3 linked regions of the Homo sapiens genome follow. The protein of the gene in region 1 interacts with the protein of each later gene in a biochemical or structural test. Each region holds a gene or a part of one and is shown on either strand. Other genes may lie near its edges.

Region 1 (4,260 bases):
CAAGGAGGGTTGAGAGCCACTGGCACAGGGGCAGAAGAGGCTATTTCTTCCATTCCGCCCCCTCTTTGTTGCGGAGGCAAACTGAGGTTCCTGGAGTCAGAATCTATCAGTCGTGGTGACTGCCCTGGTTGCACTGTAAGTATGGGGGGACGTCTCCACGAAAAAAAACTAACTTTCTGCCTTGTGCTCTGCAGGTCCCTCCTTCTCCCACCTTCCCCAAGTAGCTGCTCCTGACCCCCCCACACACCTTGGCAAACGACACCAGTGGCCGATAGCAACTGGTGTTTTAAAAATACTAATTTGGAGCCCCATTTGAGACCTACAACGGGAGAGTCTGCATCAGATTCGGCCTCAGATTCTACAGCATCTGACTACATTCCCAGGTGTGTGTGATGCGCAGCCAGGTTTGGAAGCTAGTGAACTCCACAGTAGGTCTAGCCTTTCACCACGTGAAGTCATTAAGGGTTTGTAAGAATGAATGAGCTGTCAAGAGAGGAAAGGCCTGGTGCAGTGTTCCTTTATTAATTATGAGGAAAGTGATTTATTGGCAATGATAATGCTTCTCTTGGAAAGGGCAAAGAATGGTTCGTCGATTGCTGCATTAGGTTTTTTCCCACTCAACCTTAATGCTCGGCTTTTACTCCTCACTGTAGTTTAAAACCAGCACGCCTTTCACACGAAACAGACTCTGGGTCTTTATTCCCAGGTGAAACGCATCTTTGAGGGAAATACCAACACAGAGACTCTGTCCCAGTTCTTGGCCGGGGGACACCCTCCCCCGAATATCTCTGTTTGCTTGTGTCAGCATCTAGTAGCCAACGTATAGTTGTGCATATCTGATACGTAGAAAAACACAGGGTGAGGATTAAAAAAAAAATCATTGATATATGCCCAGATCCTTTTGCTAAAAGAAAGCTTCCTTTAGCAGAAGGGCAGGAAGTGAGGGAAGAAAGATAGTTGGATTAACAAAGTCAGAGGTGAGAAACGGGTAGGCGAATTGGGGGTCAGGGTTCTGTCTGCGGAAGAGAAGAAGAGGGTTCAAAAGAAAAGTTGCAGCGCCTGTGTGCGCGTGTCATCGATGGGCTGGGTGCGAGAGACAGCGCTAGCGCGCGGCCACAACGCACTGCGGGGCCGAGAGCCGGCAGGAAATCGAAAAAGCTGCTCGCCGGCAGAGGCTGGGAGGCTGGAAGGGCTCCCCACCCGCTCGGTGCTCCAGAAACGCGCCGGCTTTGCCCCGACGCGATCGCCTGGGGAGCCCAAGGGGCGCGCAGGGGGCCCCGGGGCGCCCGGCAGCCGCGGGGCCGAGCGCGCGTGTGAGCGAGTGCGAGGCTGCGGGCGGCGGGCGGGCGAGTGTGCGCGGGAGGGAGGGGGAGCGCGCGCGCGCCCGGGCCCCGGCCCTCCCAGCCTCCCGGCCTCCGCGCCTGCCTCCCGCCCGCGCGCACCGCTGCCCGCTGCCGCGGCTCCCGCTCGCGCCGGCGCTGCACGGTAGTCAGCCCGCCGCCGCCGCCTGCTTTGTGCTTCCCACAGAAGATGGGAGCGACCTCTTCCTGATCGGGAGCTGTTTAAAAGGAGGGAGTGCGCCGTATTTTCTACTAGCGTGGAGGAACGGAGGAAGAATCCATTCACACTCCCCAAACCAGGTAGGATCTTATGATGGACAGGCAGAAGGCATTTAGTCAGAGACCAAGAACTATTTTCCATTTGCTGCTCATAAGGCTACACTTCCCTCTGCTTTGGCAAACGAGCGGCTTCTAAATTTGTGTGTGTGTGTGTGTGTGTGTGTGTGTGTGTGTGTGTGTGTGTGTGATGTGGTGTGTGCGCGCCTGCACATTTTTCTGGGTGTCCGCGCTTCCCAGAGTGAAATTGCTCGGGCTGGTGCGTCTGGGCGTGAGGGTGCCTGCCTGCCTGCCAGTGCAGGCTGCCGGAGGAAGAAAGGGCTGCTAAGGAGAGATGCTGCACCCTGCACCGCGCTGGGCTCTGAGGATTCAGGGCGCGAAGAGCTAAGTCCACCCCGAATGCAGAGCTGCTGGGGATCCAGGCGTCCCCACCCACTGGACTCTTCTCCGCGGACATCCCTCCTTCCGGTAATCCCTGGGGTCTTTCCCCAAGGCCACATTTCCGAGCCCCCTGTTTTCCAGCGGGCGTTGGGTGCTCATTCACCACGGACTGCGGAGAGGAGGGAGGTGTGGCGGGGCAGAGACAGACGAGGAAGAAATGTAGGGGGTAGCAGGGAGTGGGCTGCGGGGTCCACGTCTCTGGGCACTGTGCCGTGGTGTGCTTTGGGGATTCTGCACACACAGGCATCTTTCCCCAAGAGATTGGAAGGGAACTTTGCAGCTGCATTCTCTGCCTCTGGAGCTTTGCTGGCTCTTGGGGGAAATGGTCTGTGTTCTGAGATGTGAAGATATCCTTTTTGGCTCCTCCTTAATGAAGAAGAGGGCGGTCTTATAGCTGGACAGCCGGCCAAAGAAACCAAATCCGCCCAGGCGATGCTCTTGAAAATACAGTACGTGTGCATCCTTGATTCTTTAAATCCACCCCCTGCATCACCCCCGCCTCTTCTCTATCCCCCCCACCACCCCGTGGATTCTGTTGCTGTTTGATGAATGGCTTGGGCTGGCAATTTGTATTTCCCTCTCCAAAGTGGTAGTGGTTGAGTTGAGAACAGGGGTGATGAAATTTAACAAAGCATTTTTAGAAGAGAGCAATGTGCATGTTGTACGCAGTCATTGGAAAGTCATGCTTTGCGCTAGGTATCCTTTTGAAGCCCCCGAACCTGGCTCTCCTGAAGCCGCTCTCTCTCTCTCCTGCTAGTCAGCTACTAGTGGTTGTGAATATAACAATACAAACTTTGTCCTGCTGGAGGTGTAAAGACTAAAAAGAGAAAAAAAGGATATCAGTGGGAGGTGTAGTGGAAGAAGCTTTTTAAAAAATGACAGATGTGGTGAAGACAGTACAAGCGTCCTGATCATGGAGGAGCCTCTAGCTGAGTAGGTGGAGATTTCTGATCAGATCTGGTTAAAGGCATTGCTGGAGTATCTCCAGATATGAGCAGTTGAACATGCACAATCTGAGACTTGTGCGAAGATTTCCCAAGGGAAAGAGGGAGCCACCAGGAGAGAATTCTGAAAGTATACCTCTCTTTCCCATGCCCCCACCAGCGCGCGCGCGTGCACACACACACACACACACTCACATGCTTTCTCTTTCTCTCTCAAAGCTACTCCTGCAGCGAGTCAGAAAAAAAAAGGAAAATGAATCTAGATGTTTCATTCATTTCAAATAAGAAGACAAAGCCGGAAGAGGGATGATTGGTTTTAGGTTCCTCTTTCAAATCCTGTGTTACTTGGATTGAGCTCCCTGGGTTTGCTAAACTTGCTTAATTGGGAGGTTAGGCGGGTGTGAAAGCAGGAGGAAGGAAGGGAAAACTAGCTCCATCTTTGGGGCCTTGTGAGTGAGAAGGTGGGGGAGGACCAACTTATTTCATCAAGAGGCAAGATGTGTGCTCTTAAATGGTTTTCGTTTTACAAATTCTGCCTGCTTGAAGAATTCCATTTGGATCTCACGGCTCTTTAGCTAAGATTTCTCACACCTGCTATAAAAGAAGCCCTGATTTTGTCCCCTTAAAATGGTTGTTGTCTTTTTTTAAAAAAATGATTAATTCCTAGAAAAACAACAGCAACAAAAAGGACTGAACAGAGATAAACCATTATTTATTGTTGAGCTGTATAGGGCTACAAAGGATGTAAGAGTGTCATGATAATCAGACTTTACTGTCTTGAAAGCTTAACAGGGCTGAAGGAGGAGAGTAATGAACTAAAATATGAAGGCTTATTTTCTATGTATCTATCTACCTATGTCTTTACTTTAATATTATTATATAGTGGTTCCTACTGTAACGTTTCAGATTAAGCACATAGCCCTTTTGTTGACCAGGGGAAGAAAAGAGCATGGGAGTAACAGTGCTTTGACTCCCAATAAAATTACAAATGGAAAGTGAGGTATAGTCAGTAACATCTATAGGACTATTTGCAGGAATTATGTTAATTGCTCTGTTAAGCTTTCTGTGTTTTGAAAAAATAAAATATATTCCAAGAGAACTTCAGCATCTGTTAAAAAGCTATGTTTAACATGCTTTTGCCAGGCAAATATAGACTTTTATTTACTTGCAAAATAAACACATGATTCCTCTTAGTATTCAATCTATTTCTTTGACAAAATAAATGATGAGAAAAGCTGTGCAGATCCAAGGAAGTTGCA
Region 2 (3,251 bases), on another chromosome or scaffold:
TGTTCACCACTATCATTGTCATCCAACGGACAAACTCCAAGAAAAAAGAAGCAGAGCAGGACCATGCAGCTGAGCCCGAGTCACCTCTCCTGCCCCACATCTCTGCCCCTACTTTTCTTTTTTCTTTTTGTTTTGTTTTGTTTTTTGTTTTTGAGATGGAGTTTTGCTCCTATCGCCCAGGCTGGAGTGCAATGGTGCGATCTCGGCTCACTGCAAACTCCTCCTCCTGGGTTCAAGTGATTCTCCTGCCTCAGCCTCCTGAGTAGCTGGGATTACAGGCACCAGCCCAGCTAATTTTTGTATTTTTAATAGAGATGAGGTTTAGCCATGTTGGCCAAGCTGGTCTCGAACTCCTGACCTCAAGTGATCCACCCACCTCAGCCTCCCAAAGTGCTAGGATTACAGGCGTGAGCCACTGTGCCCAGCCCTCTGCCTCTACTTTTCATATATTCATTCAACCATTTATTGGGCACCTGCTCTGTACAAGACCTGGTGCTAGATGCTGCGGAATTCAAAGATGAATAACATTCCCTGTCCTCAAGGGGCTCATAATTTTCAGATCCATCCTCAGGTCAAGAGAGAGCTTTCCCACTCTCTGGTCTCAAGAAAAGAAATCAGGATGGGGTGTAAGTAAGAAACATTTGTGTTTCAAGGAGGAAGCTTTATTTGGGAAGAGTGCGGTTCTGCTCGGCCCTGATCAGCTCTGCCCTGCCCACCCCATCTCAGCCAGGCGGCTTTACTTCTTCCTGATCTTCAGGTCTTTCTTCTTCCTGATTTCCTTGGCCAGCTCCCCAATCAATCTCCAGTACTCATTGAACTTGAGCTCCGAGTCCTGATTCACATCCAAGCTCTTCATCTTCTCATCAAGAGAGCCCACATCCTGAGGAGACACCAAAGGGAAGGGTAGAGTTAGAAACTGGGGTTCTTGAGAAAGTAGGGAGGGAAGAACTGTCAGCTGCTATTCTCTCAAGGCCCTTCCCTCAGAGAGCAGTGGCACCTGCCCCTTCTCTAAAGAAGGAGGCTGCAGCCCCAAAACTGCACCGCCACGGGGTGCCTCTCCAAGGAGCACCAGCAGAGAAAGGTGGGGGGGCCTGAGTCCTAGTGCTTGCCGTTGTGTAAATACTTCCACGATGGCTGCTTACAAACCACAAACAGGTTGTCGCTGAATACAAAGCTGGAAAGAAATCCACACAATCTTCTCTCACCAGCACACCACTGCAGCTGCTGTGGGATCGGCCCAAGGAATGCCAGCATCTCAGGGAGATGCTGCAGGGTTGGACCCAGTCAGAGCCTTCTGGGGCCACCCTCCTCTTTCTCAGAAAGCTGGAGAAGCTCCCAGTACTTAGCTGCTCATTTGCACAACCCTTGTGTCTTTTCATTTATCCAGCTGGGTCACTAGATCAGGGGAATGGCAAGGGCATGGAGTATCTGGGTTTTTAGGGGCCCTTGACAGGGTATCTCTCATAGGCCTGTGAAATCAATGGCAACAGTAAACTGGATGTCCTGATCGAAGGACCTGTTGCCAGATAAACAAGCACAACCAAAAAGTTGACTGTTGAACAATAGTTCAACATCAAACCAGAGAAGGGTGCCTCAGGCAGGGTGTGAGGCTCAAGGTTTGAACCAACATTTGGATGCAGACAGAGAAGACTCACTGAATCTCTAAAGGGAACAAAGCTGATTCACAGAAGAACTAAAAAAGACTTTTTTTTAAGTTACAACCACGTTTAATTATAAAATACTATAAGCACTGCCAGTGGAAGGCAAGGATGGCTACTGTAACATTATATTGGGGGTGCATTCAATCAGTAAAGAGAAATAAATAAGTATTAAGAAAGAAGAAGCAGGAAGGGTGCGGTGGCTCACGCCTGTAATCTCAACGCTTTGGGAGGCTGAGGTGGGCGGATCACTTGAGGTCAGGAGTTTGAGACCAGCCTGGCCAACATGGTGAAACCCTGCCTCTACTAAAAATACAAAAATTAGCCAGATATGGTGGTGGGAGCCTGTAATCCCAGCTACTCGGTAGGCTGAGACAGGAGAATTGCTTGAACCTGGGAGGCGGAGGTTGTGGTGAGCAGAGATCGCGCCATTGCACTCCAGTCTGGGCTACAGAGTGGGACTCTGTCTCAAAAAAAGAAAAAAAAATACAAAAATTAGCTCGGTGTGATAGTGCACACCCGTAGTCCCAACTACTTGGGAGGCTGAATCAGAAGAATCGCTTGAGTGTGGGAGGCAGAGGCTGTAGTGAGCCGAGATCAAGCCACTGCCCTCCAGCCTGGGTGACAGAGTGAGACTATCTAAAAAAAAAAAAAAAAAGAGCTGTGACAGAAACAAAACAAAGGCCAAATACCAAATACCATACCAGTATCAGTGGGTTCCACAGCCCTGGATTCAACCAACCTAGAACCAAAAATATTTGAAGAAAAAAATCCACAAAGTTCCAAAAAGCAAAACTTAAATTTTGCCCCATGCTAAGTACTAAGTTGAATCCATGTGAATGAAGTGATGAGTAGGCACTGCATTATGTATTACAAGTAACCTAGAGTTACTTGTAATTTAAAGTATACAGGAGGATGTGCATAGGTTATATGCAAGTACTATCTGATTTTATATAAGGGATTTGAGGCCAGGCATGGTGGCTCACACCTGCAATCTCAGCACTTTGGGGAGGCCAAGGTGAGAGGATCGCTTGAGCCCAGGAGTTCAAGACCAGCCAGGGCAACATTGTGAGACACCCATCTCTACAAGAAAAGGACAAAAAAAGGTAATTGAGCATCCAAGGATTTTGGCATCCAAGGGGGTTCTGGGAACAATTCCCATGGATACAAAATGACAACTATATATTTCATATTATACCACAGGGATATTAAAAAAAACCTTGAATAAATAGAAAATGGAATAAACATATATTTTTCTTAAAGAGAAAGGCTCAATCAGCTAAAAATGTTGATTTTCCCTAAAATATATCTTTTATATGATCCCAATTAAACTATCTACAGGATTTTTTTTTTTTTTTGAGATGGAGTCTTACTCTGTCGCCCAGGCTGGCGTGCAGTAGTATGATCTCAGCTCACTGCAACCCCCACCTTCTGGGTTCAAGCAATTCTCCTGCCTCAGCCTCCCGAGGAGCTGGGATTATAGGCACCCACCACCACGCCTTGCTAATTTTTCTATTTTTAGTAGAGATGGGGTTTCACCATGTTTGCCAGGCTAGTCTCAAACTCCTGACCTCAGGTGATCCACCCACCTCA
Region 3 (3,940 bases), on another chromosome or scaffold:
ACTGAGCCAGATGAAGGCATAAGTGACTATTTCCTCTACTCCGCTCCCACATGAAAATTGTGTATTCAGTGAAAGATTGATCAAAGACTCAAAAGGATGCAATCACTTGTCTCTTATCTACTGACACATTTAAAAAATATTTCTTCCTCTTCCCCCAATATCCACTGTTTCTCCTTCAAATATTGAAGCCCTCAAAATCATCTTTGGAGAAAGACGTAGACCTACCTCTGGGCACGCATCCTTAACTTTGGCCAAATAAACCTCCTAAAATGATTGAGATTCACCTTGGTCATTGTCATTGATTTACACAAGCCTGATCATCCTGCTCTGGTGGTGTCCTCCTGGGCCTAGTGAAACAAATACTGTCAATGGCTTAACAATGTTGCACTGAGATTGTGTCAGTCAAGGTGACACATGGATCGGAGAGACAGACTTTTGCCTCCAGATCCAGAGAGGTCGGTGGGCACATGAAATGAACTAGCTTTGCTAAGGGGGATATCTGTGTTGTGGGGTAGATGGCAGCACAGGTTCTGGCATGGCCTTGATTGCTCAGCAATCTTATTGACCTCTAGGCATAAACCAAGGGCAGAGTGCTTTTGGATGTCCCTTAGCTTTGGTGCGACATGGGGAATGTACAGATGAGACTTAATCCATTTTGGGCAGGTTTCTGAATCTTGAAGGACCACCTCTCCATGAATCCTGGGCATCTGTTGTCCCTTGCTGCCTCTCTGTGAGTAATAAAGTTGCTTTACTAAAACTCGTGTGAATGTTCTGTCTTACTGAACTCATGAACATGGTAAAGTAACCTAGGCATGGTGAACTTTCTTCACACACAATGATTACCCTACTCCAGCTTTCTAGGTCTTTGTAACAGCCAAGTTAGAAAGTTGGGAAAGCAAAGGGGAGGCATAGTAGCATTGCTCTCTCCTTTTTTGAAAACCTTGGAATCTATTTTGAAAACTGATCCTCTGCTCCAGTGATGAACTTTGCATCCCAGAACGACTTAGGAGGAGGTCTCCCTACCTATCTCCTTAGCTGCATAAAGATCTTTAAGTTGATATTCCATTTGCCAAAACTGAAGAGCTGGTAACCTCATCTGTTAAAACAAGACACTCAGGCTGTAAAGTTTGTTCTCCTAGTCTTTTATTAGGGAGCAGTGGAGTAGAGCTAAACCTGAAACCTGGGCCCTGGCTCAGGGCTAAAAAAGGTTCAGGGCACCCCTGTGCGGGTGGGTGGAGTGGGGGTGATTTTGTTTCAGGCTGAGCAGGAGGGCAAAATTCAGTCTGGGTACAATCTGGGCTGCTCCTGTGGCAGCCTAAGCCACAGGTTTGAAGCTTCTATTGAGCAACAGAGTACTTTACATAAATTGCCTCAAGATGAATCAGAGATTTCTTCACCCAAGGGCTAAGATGAAGCCTGAACTGATTATAAAACCTTCCTTGGCTCAGTGCCCTTCACCACTGCTGGCTTTTTGCTGTAGCTCCACATTCCTGTGCATTGAGGGGTAAGTGCATTTTCCTTGGATGGGTTCTTAGGTGGTCCACAGGGTAGTGACTGCAGGTGACCACTTTGAAATCACAAGGTGTTGGAAACCACAACCCTCCACTTGCCTGAGCACCTCTGGGGTGATATTGCATTTTGGACCCAAGTAGATCAGCTCTTGTTGTGCTATGTAGACTCAGTCCCATGATTTAAGAATGGCTAAGCAGGCCGGGTACGGTGGCTCACGCCTGTAATCCCAGCACTTTGGGAGGCCGAGGCGGGCGGATCATGAGGTGAGGAGATCGAGACCATCCTGGCTAACATGGTGAAACCCCGTCTCTACTAAAAAAATACAAAAAATTAGCCGGGCGTGGTGGCGGGTGCCTGTAGTCCCAGCTACTCGGGAGGCTGGGGCAGGAGAATGGCGTGAACCCGGGAGGCAGAACTTGCAGTGAGCCGAGATCGCCCTACTGCACTCCAGCCTGGGCGGCAGAGTGAGACTCCGTCTCAAAAACAAACAAACAAACAAACAAAAAACCCAAAACAACAACAACAAAAAAAGAATGGCTAAGCAGGGGTGGGTTATGGACCATTTGTGGGGGATATGTGGCCATAGTGCCATCACCTGAGGAAAGCAAACAGCCTGGCCAATCACAGAACCCTTCCCAAGGGACCTTGAGTAAGCAATACCCTCCAAGTTATGCACCCCGGTGGATGAGGTGGTATGGAACATGGGCAACTGAGGCTGATTTTTTTAGACGTTAGACAGTATTATATGTTTTCTCCTCCCCATCCTATCCACACATGAGAAGTTCACCATGGATCAAACAGAGCAGAGACCACAAAATAGATATGGAGGATGTTATGTTTTCTTTAGGCCCTTGATTCAGAAAGAGAGGGGAGAGTGGAGGTTGAGGGGTGGGGGAGAAACTGCCTCTAGACTTCCCTTGTTTCCTTGAAGGTTAACATTAGGCTGGGAAGATGACAAAACTTGAAGAGCATCTGGAGGGAATTGTCAATATCTTCCACCAATACTCAGTTCGGAAGGGGCATTTTGACACCCTCTCTAAGGGTGAGCTGAAGCAGCTGCTTACAAAGGAGCTTGCAAACACCATCAAGGTAGGTGATGCCCCTCTCACTGCAAACTTGCCCATGACCCTGCACTGAGGGGAGTGGCAAGGCCTGGCAGAGGATGGTGGGACAAGGACTGGGGTGGGGTTGGCCCCAGTTTGAGCTCCCAAAGGATGCTCTCCCCGCTGCTGTGGGAGAGGTCCTTTGCTTCCCTCTCTCAATAACTCACTTAAGGCTCTACTCAGTTCCTCTCTCTGAGTCTGTTTCCTCATATGTAAAATGGAGAGAGGCAGGGCACGGGAGGGGTTGAATGAGTGAGCAGAAGAGTACCTTCCAGGTCAAGCCTTGTTAATTCCAGGGTGGTTCATGACCATTGTGTTCTCTGTTTTGTTACACTGGATTCTCCAACACAGTGTTGGCTAATGAGTTAATGTGCCTGGGCCTTCACAACCCGAGCTCTGAGGGATAAGAGGCCTAAGAAAGGGTCTTGTGTGGAGGTTCTGAACTCAAGGTCTCTGTTGTCCTTTTTTCCTAGAATATCAAAGATAAAGCTGTCATTGATGAAATATTCCAAGGCCTGGATGCTAATCAAGATGAACAGGTCGACTTTCAAGAATTCATATCCCTGGTAGCCATTGCGCTGAAGGCTGCCCATTACCACACCCACAAAGAGTAGGTAGCTCTCTGAAGGCTTTTTACCCAGCAATGTCCTCAATGAGGGTCTTTTCTTTCCCTCACCAAAACCCAGCCTTGCCCGTGGGGAGTAAGAGTTAATAAACACACTCACGAAAAGTTCTGAATAGTGTCTGTGAACTTTTTTCTTTCCATGCCTGCGGTTCCCAAACTTGATCACACCTTACCCCTGCTCTTCTGGCAGTCTGATTTAGATCCCTTAGAACTCCTGCCCCATTTGTTCATTTGATCACCAATTATTTATTTATCGAATTATTTATTGAATGTCCACCATTCATTCATTCATTCACTCACTCAACAAATATTCTCTGAGCATCAGAGACCAAAGACACAAAGTCCTTGTCCTCTTAGAGCTTGCATATTATTTGGGAGAGAATAGAAAATAAATAAATAGACAAGCAAATAAAAATATATTGTATGGCTGGCCATCATGGCATGTGCCTGTAGTTCCAGTACTCAGGAGGCTGGGGCGAGAGGATTGCTTGAGTCCAAGAGTTTGAGGCCGTAGTGTGCTATGATTACACTTGTGAATAGCTATTGCATTCCAGCCTGGGCAACATAGAAAGATCCTGTCTTTAAACACATATATATATACACACACATATATATATGTCTTTAAACATATATATATGTATATATATGATATATACATATATATGTGTATATATGATATAATATAATATGATATGACATG

The links.
Region 2: the proteins of SLC8A1 (region 1) and S100A13 interact in a biophysical measurement, tested with the Homo sapiens proteins (one large-scale study listed by IntAct).
Region 3: the proteins of SLC8A1 (region 1) and S100A12 interact in a biophysical measurement, tested with the Homo sapiens proteins (one large-scale study listed by IntAct).

Annotation. Positions count from the first base shown.
Region 1 is NC_000002.12:40,449,284-40,453,543, reverse strand, and holds the start of SLC8A1 (sodium/calcium exchanger 1 isoform A precursor), read left to right. Parts: upstream 1-1,453; 5' UTR 1,454-1,640; intron 1,641-1,859; exon of another isoform or gene 1,860-2,084; intron 2,085-4,260. UniProt on the Homo sapiens protein: Mediates the exchange of one Ca(2+) ion against three to four Na(+) ions across the cell membrane, and thereby contributes to the regulation of cytoplasmic Ca(2+) levels and Ca(2+)-dependent cellular processes.
Region 2 is NC_000001.11:153,618,159-153,621,409, forward strand, and holds the end of S100A13 (protein S100-A13), read right to left. Parts: intron 881-3,251; coding exon 737-880; 3' UTR 641-736; downstream 1-640. UniProt on the Homo sapiens protein: Plays a role in the export of proteins that lack a signal peptide and are secreted by an alternative pathway. Binds two calcium ions per subunit. Binds one copper ion. Binding of one copper ion does not interfere with calcium binding.
Region 3 is NC_000001.11:153,373,116-153,377,055, reverse strand, and holds S100A12 (protein S100-A12), read left to right. Parts: upstream 1-1,434; 5' UTR 1,435-1,504; intron 1,505-2,443; 5' UTR 2,444-2,463; coding exon 2,464-2,601; intron 2,602-3,088; coding exon 3,089-3,229; 3' UTR 3,230-3,345; downstream 3,346-3,940. UniProt on the Homo sapiens protein: S100A12 is a calcium-, zinc- and copper-binding protein which plays a prominent role in the regulation of inflammatory processes and immune response.